Homo sapiens: one gene and its partner. The protein of the gene in region 1 interacts with the protein of each later gene in a pairwise test. Each region holds a gene or a part of one and is shown on either strand. Other genes may lie near its edges. The genes, in order: ZNF521 and PICALM.

The links.
Region 2: the proteins of ZNF521 (region 1) and PICALM interact in a two-hybrid assay, tested with the Homo sapiens proteins (one large-scale study listed by IntAct).

Annotation. Positions count from the first base shown.
Region 1 is NC_000018.10:25,342,074-25,345,899, forward strand, and holds part of ZNF521 (zinc finger protein 521), read right to left. Parts: intron 3,275-3,826; exon of another isoform or gene 3,179-3,274; intron 1-3,178. UniProt on the Homo sapiens protein: Transcription factor that can both act as an activator or a repressor depending on the context. Involved in BMP signaling and in the regulation of the immature compartment of the hematopoietic system.
Region 2 is NC_000011.10:85,999,325-86,003,150, forward strand, and holds part of PICALM (phosphatidylinositol-binding clathrin assembly protein), read right to left. Parts: intron 1,835-3,826; coding exon 1,711-1,834; intron 1,456-1,710; coding exon 1,319-1,455; intron 1-1,318. UniProt on the Homo sapiens protein: Cytoplasmic adapter protein that plays a critical role in clathrin-mediated endocytosis which is important in processes such as internalization of cell receptors, synaptic transmission or removal of apoptotic cells.

The DNA of each region.
Region 1 (3,826 bases):
CCCGTGCTCTTCCTGCTCTGCAACCATTTCCCTACAAGCACTAGTATCCAAGTCACAATACTTATGACCATAACTGTTTGTTTTTATTTTCAACTCTTTCCAGGAATTAATATGCACTCCCTTGAGCCCACAGTTCTTCTTAACCCTTGCCTCATGTCTGCAAAACATCATACAACTTTGCAAGTTGCACACTGACAACCCCAAACCCCCCTATGTATAGGAACTTCAGACTCCATACATCAGCATTCAAGCAATGATTCTGTTTTGGCTTCATTAGTACTTGGTAGATCAATGTTTGTGAAGACTTTACAGCCTTTTTCCTTTTCTTTCCTTTGTTTTTTTTTTGTTTGTTTGTTTGTTTTTTTTGAGACAGAGTCTCGCTCTGTCGCCCAGGCTGGAGCCCGGAGTGCAGTGGAGCCATCTTGGCTCACTGAAAGCTCCGCCTCCCAGGTTCCCGCCATTCTCCTGCCTCAGCCTCCCAAGTAGCTGGGACTACAGGCGCCCGTCACCACGCCCGGCTAATTTTTTGTATTTTTAGTAGAGACGGGGTTTCACCGTGTTAGCCAGGATGGTCTCGATCTCCTGACCTCGTGATCCGCCCGCCTCGGCCTCCCAAAGTGCTGGGATTACAGGCGTGAGCCACCGCGCCTGGCCTTCTTTTTCTTAATGTATAAAAGTAATCAATGAAAGACAAAAGGTGCTGATAGTGGTAATAAAAAGCATATGTCTGATAAACTTAACACAACTAAGACAACCTAAATCATTAGGAATGCTGAAAGCAATTAATATGTAGTCTTATTCAAGCACTAACTGGACCTAATCTGGCTCTATTGTGAAAGATAAGAATATTAGCTAAGAACACGTATGAAATGCTGGAAATTGTTTCTTGAAGTCAATATAAAGTTTAAAGCACAGTGATATTTTTTAGATTCCAGGTCACAGAAACTCCTATAATATGGCAAGTTATAGTTTACTGTGTGGACTGTTCACCTCACTACAGGTTTCAACAAATGTATTTTGTATGAATATATGGAACTGTCTGTAATCAATGAGGATTTTGTCCCTATCAGGTAAATAAGTTTCCATCTTGACATATCATATCCTTCACAGTATACTGATGGGATAATAAATTTTGAGAAAAAGCCAATCATAAGATGGAAAGAGAAGGTAATAAAGTCAGTGAAATAATGAGACTCAATGATACGCTGATTTTAATTTCAAAAAGGAAATCTTATTCTTTGACACCAATTTTAATTGGAAAAAAATCCAATTTTTCCCTTAAAACATTATTAACACTTATATGGACTTACTAAACAAAGTGCATTTCCTACAGAAGGTTTAGAGTATGTTTCCGTGTATATAGACTATGTATGTGTGTGTCACAATATGTTGTGATAACTGAGGGACGTAAACTCTTGGGTTTCACATATACAAAAAAATTATCATAACCAAAATATTGAAATATAAATCCAACAAACTGCACTATTATGAAAACAAATATTCTGAATGTCAATCACTTGACCTTGCTCAGATTGGGAGAGCTATGATCATGCGGGAATAGTATATATGCTTTCCAAACCAAATCATCTTTATTTAAAAATAAGATTCAAAATGAACACGTACCTAACACATACACACATAAAAATGACAGGCATACACATTTTTTTTCTTTTCAGGATTTTTCAAAGCATTTACTATCCCATAGAATTAAAAGAGATGCTGCCCCAAAATAATAATTTTTAAACTTAATCTTTTTTTAAAAAGTGTTCTAAGAAAGGGGAGTTTTTACACAGTCATATTGGAATCTAAATTTGTTTAATGACCAAATTATAAACCTCTGCAATCTGACAACTAGAGTAGAAATACTAACTATAGTATGTGCTGCCATAATAATGATACCCACAAGATCAGCCCAGTGCTTGTAGCTGTGGCAGGGTCCCCAGGCAGCAGGATAACTGCTGCTTGATCATTATCCCTGCTAAAACTGAAGCTACTGAAGTTTTAAAGAATTCATATCTTACTGAATTTCTTTCATCTCTAATAATTACTAAACTGGCATAATTACTTATACTAGAGGTGGAATGTGATGCATGCTAAAAGCCCAAGGTGCCTAAAATTAAAGTTTTTTATTAAAAAAAAAAAAAAAGCTGCGATTCTACTTAGTTTTCAGAGATTTATCTTGTGTCGGGCTTTTTATGCCAGGAGTTGCATAATTATTTAAACCATTTAAAAGCTTTCCTTACACTATTTGATTAATACTATAACAGAGCTATTTAAATTTACTAATGTTAACTTTAATGTTTAAGTTTTAATTGCTTTGTAATAACACTGTTGCAGAACATATTTTAAATCAGACAAGTACGCTTTCACTACAACAAACAAGGTATATGCAATCCTAGCACCATGTAGTCCCCAAACAAAAAACAGGAACATTTCAGATTTAATTGAAATGGAATTAGAAAGTTGCATGCATCTCCCCCACCCCTAGAACTAACTTTAACCTTTGACAGCACAACAGGAGTCAATGAAGAAAAAAATTAAATACATCTGGGAAAATACTTAGCTACAGGTTTGACGTGGAATATCAGCCTTTGTATCAAAATCTCATTCAATTCAAAAGCATTCTTTCACATCTTACTTAATGATAATATTTACATTTTTAATGATGCAGACAGCTGCTAAAATAAACAAATACTGCAAGTCTTAAAATCACTTTCCCTCTTAAAATTAACTGAAAAACTGAACATAGTATCCATTAAATCCAGCCATGAGGAATGTATTCTGTGGCAACAGAATTAATGACAGTAAACCAGCAATGTGAATCCTGACAGATGAATTAATAAAACACATTAATAGGAAAAAGAGACCCTTAATAAAATTCTTAATTGATCTTAGTAGACCTACTCTTTTCTACTATCAAAACCTCTTTCTTCTTATTACATGCTTTTACATCAAAATGAAAACTCAAGCAAGTATACTTAATAATATGCTTCAACTTATGTCAACAAGTATTTAACTAGAATTTACCAGACTAACGAGCCCTCACAAACAGACTCCTTTAAAAATAGAGGGAGGCAGGTACAAATGTTCCTCTAAGGTGAAAAGAAATCTCCTACAAATATGCTACGAGTCTTGCACTAGACCAAATAAGCAAGTACAAAGAACTAAGTATAATTACCGGAAGCAAAAAGTTGAAAAATTCTGTCATCACTGTTAGACGTCACTGCTGTCAGTAAGGATAACTACAGTGGTTTTTAAAGGATATGGAAATACTCTGGCAAAACAAAAAAGAAAAATTATTAACAGCTTGCTTTATAAAAGGCTGCTTGCTAATCTCAAATCCCTTTGTAATTTCATTTTTACATGTATGCTTTTATGTTCAGTATCCTATTTTTTGTCCTTTTTTGGCTGGATGAATAAAAGACAACAATCCACTCATGCATAAAACAGATGTTTTTGTTTTTAAGGCCAAGTGGAATCTTATGAATTTGTGTGCCCTCACTTTAGGAAGATGCTGCCAGAAGTGCTGAAATCGTGAAACCGGCGTTTTGGAAGAGACTCACTGGACCATCAGTTCTGGAACTTTGACTAGCACTCATGGGATCCTTGCCAACTGTAATTGCTGTTTTTGTTTATGTCGGATTGTCTACTGATTGGACTATAATGAATTTAATGACTTCAACATCTAGTCAGTATAATTTAAAGGTGGTGGAGGGAAGAAACAGTCACTGGTTGATAGATAAATAGAAGAACATTTGCAAGTGTCTGAAGGAGTATGGATGTCAAACACTGTTTGAGCTTCTGCAGTGTTTCCAATAATCAGGCT
Region 2 (3,826 bases), on another chromosome or scaffold:
AAGATTTGCCCTTAATTACTATTAAAAAGGTGAAAATTTTTAGTATGTGACATAAAACATAGTGAAATTAGTTCTTTATCCAATAATTTGTTTCAGCCTCGAACAATGAACATTCTTTTCACTTCTTTCTCCTAGGACAGACTTCTTTTCAAGATCTCCATGTTGAGAACTTGCCCCTTAATGGGGTCAATGTTACTTAACTGGGGATTAAAGAAGGTAGCATACATGAGCAAACAAATCATAAAGCTGAAAGAAAAAAAAGAACTAAATTCAACAAACACCTACTAAGATTTCAGGGAGCAGGTAGCAACTGAGCATGCATACAGCAAGCAGTTCACGTAGTAAAACTTACACTGAGCTATTAGGCTCAGCTATTAGGAGTCAGTAGGCAGGCAGATGAGCTTTTAAGGGTGAGTTAATAAACAGCAACAACAAAGTGAAAGGAAAAAACTCACCACTCTCTATGGAACATTTAACATGTGCTAATAATGCACTGTGCTAAAACCTAGTCACCTGGGAGCATCTTAAAAACAAAAATTCTTGGGCCCCAGGCCCCACCTACTGAATCAAAACTCTAGGATTGGGACTCAGATATCTGTAGTTTAATAAACTCTCCAAATGCTTCTGATGTTAAAGTTGAGAACCACAGTCTCATCTGAAAACAAGGTTTCTCAAAAAAAGTTAAGAACTAACAGAGCCAGGATTCAAACCAGAATCTGACTTTTAAAACTACTTTAAGCCACTCTGAGGTTCAGAAAATGCCAATTGTTTTACTTTACCTGGCAATATTATATTTCCATGTTAAGTAGCTTAAATTAGACAACAAGATTATTAAAGTTAGTCTGGTAGGCTTCAATACCAAGAAACCTGGCAACTAAACTCTGTCACTGTGTTCCAGATTACAGAGTTTAAAACCAGGAAACAGATATGACAGACGTTTAATATCTAATGAAATGGTATTTTGAAATATATATCATATCCATATGTCAAAGAGCTATAAAGGGTCTTGAACCATTAGATGCCTCATAAATGTGTTTAATCATAATTTTTACACAATGAAAAGTTGGCCCAGAGATAACAGCTATATTCCTATTAGTATAAATCAGTGATTTAACTATCTTCCATTTCGTAAATACGTAAAATATAAACTCATCACTTTATCTTTAGGTATTATACCAATATCACCATTTATCGCCACCTCTTTGTGTGAATAGATTATAAAAGCATAAATAAAAGTAAACCTGAAAAGTTCTGCAAAATTTCTATTAGAAGTCTTTGAACCTACATATTCAAAGGTAACCTTAACTTCTACTCCTACCTGTTAGAAGAACTAGGGGTAGAAAATATGTCAATGGCTGGTGCAGTCATTATCCCTCCTGCTGAGGTGGATACAGGAGAGGCTGCAGTTGTTAAAGAGGTATGAGGTTTCTTTGCAAGTTCTTTTAGGCGCTGTTCCTGTTAAGAAAGGGAACTACCATAAGGATTCCAGAAACCAGATTTCTTTGTACAGCCTCTGAAAAAAGCATTTTCTAATTTGTTCTGATAGCAGATATTCTGTTTTACCTAATTCTATGTCAGGACGAAAAGTTAGACTGAGTTTCAGCCCATTAGGTAGCTATACATTTAAGACTCTAAGTCTGTGCAGAGGCCCCATTTACCTAATGAACACCTGTACTCATTTTTCGAAATAAGGAGAATGCACAAACTTACCTTTAAAGCTTTCAAACGTGCCTGTTCTTCCTCTAATGCTGCCTGCTTTTCCCTTTCATCCACTTTGGTCAGAGATAGACCAGTGCTTGCCAGGGAAGACACTGCATTGGAAAGTGTAGTTGCCCTAGGATAATTGAACAGAGATAATTTGGCTTTTTGCTAAACACTTCACATTACACCCAGGTCATGAAATGGTCTGGCAACCTTGCCATGGATAGGCACTATAATTATAAACTTAACTTCTGGATTCAAATCCAGTACTTCAGATGAAATATTCTACCTAGTGATCTACAGGATTAAAGCAATTAGAAAAATCTTGACTTAATATACACTCACTGCTTTCAGAGTAAGTGTTTGACTTTGGAAAGGGTTCACAACAGAGTGGGGCACATTGCCTCTTCCAAGCCCCAAGAGAGGAAACCAGTGCAATTGGGAAAGAGCCCACATAATCCCACAAAATCCCTGATGGGAAAAAGTGTTGAGTTTATCACAGGGAAAACCCTCTGCTAATTTACAGCCTACGTTTCGGCAGTGCCACAGGAACACCAAAACATGCATACCAGTAACACGTAACGTAAGTCTAGGTATGTTTCACCTATAACAACATCCCCAGAGGACTTCAGGTTCCTTCAAAAGAAGACTGGTTTCAATCTAGTCATCAGGCCATTTGGCATCTTTCTATGTGCTGCCCTTTTGCCAAACCAGAATTTCCTTTTTAATATACATGTACAATGTATCATTTTTCACTGGCAAGGCACCTCCTTTCCCTTTTATCAAAAACGTATCCACACTATAAACCTCAACATTAACTTTCCAAATGTTAACTCTAGGCTAAGTAAAACAAGTGGTAAAGAATTCTAACCTGAAGAACTACCTTGAGCTTTATTAATTTTCCTTTTACCACACACCAAACATCATTAGTTTCTACTCTTAAGCACGTAAAGTGGTAAAAACTACCTTTTAAATTTTATGTAATATTAGTATTATAAATAAGCCAATAAAAAGGTACAATTCAGAAGACAAAGGAAGAATAACATAGTTGTGACAGAAATGCAAGAAAACCAATAAATTTTATGATAAACATTTCAGGTAAATTGGTGCACCTGAACTACGTGGCTCTTTTTTTCGTTATTCTCTCAAATAAATGAGACTTATTGTTTTGACTGCTACTTCGAAAATCTTACTAGAAAATTCAAAGTACAAATCTAGGATTAAAAATGAGTACTAAAATCCAATAACGGCATTTCCCTTTGGAAATTATTTAAATTTTATTACTAAAAGAAAGATCAAAAGTTCTGAAACAACCAGAAAGTCTAAAAAGAACCAAAGGAAGGTTCTCACTATACAAATTCTTTCTTCATGCTGTTTTAAAAAAAGGTTCATAAGAAAACATGAGAATAACTCAAGTAATTTCTTAACCCAATACAAAAATCATGTTACCAGACTGATATGAAATGATTTCTGTTACTTTCAATTTGCTAGGTTAAATGGTCTTAGTCTGAGGAATTAGCTTAAAACATAATAAAGTGATTAAAATATAAAATATCAATAATCAACCCCATGAACTGGCATTAGGCAGAGATGATGCAATTTGATGTCAGATATTCTAGGTTTGAGTCCCAGCATTGCTACTACATACTTCACAGGGCTATTGTGAGGATTGAGCAAATTAATACGAAAGTATCTTGCAATTATAGGCCTGGCACGGTGGTTCATGCCTGTAATCCCAGCACTTTGGGAGGCTGAGGTGTGCAGATCACTTGAGTTCAGGGGTTCGAGACCAGCCTGCTCAACATGGTGAAACCCTGTCTCTACTAAAAATACAAAAATTAGCCGGCCGTGGTGGCATGCATCTGTAGTCCCACCCTTGGGAGGCTGAGGTGGGAGAATCGCTTGAACCCAGGAGGTGGAAGTTGCAAGTGAGTTGAGATTGTGCCACTGCACTCCAGCCTGGGCAATAGAGTGAGACTCTGCCTCGGGGGAAGAAAAAAAAAATGTATCTTATAACTACAAAGCACCACATAAAACAATGCATTAGCATCTTTAGGAGAAATTTTGACATCATAAACACAATTCTAAACTATGCAGTCACTGTCATTATCTTAACAGATGCTGA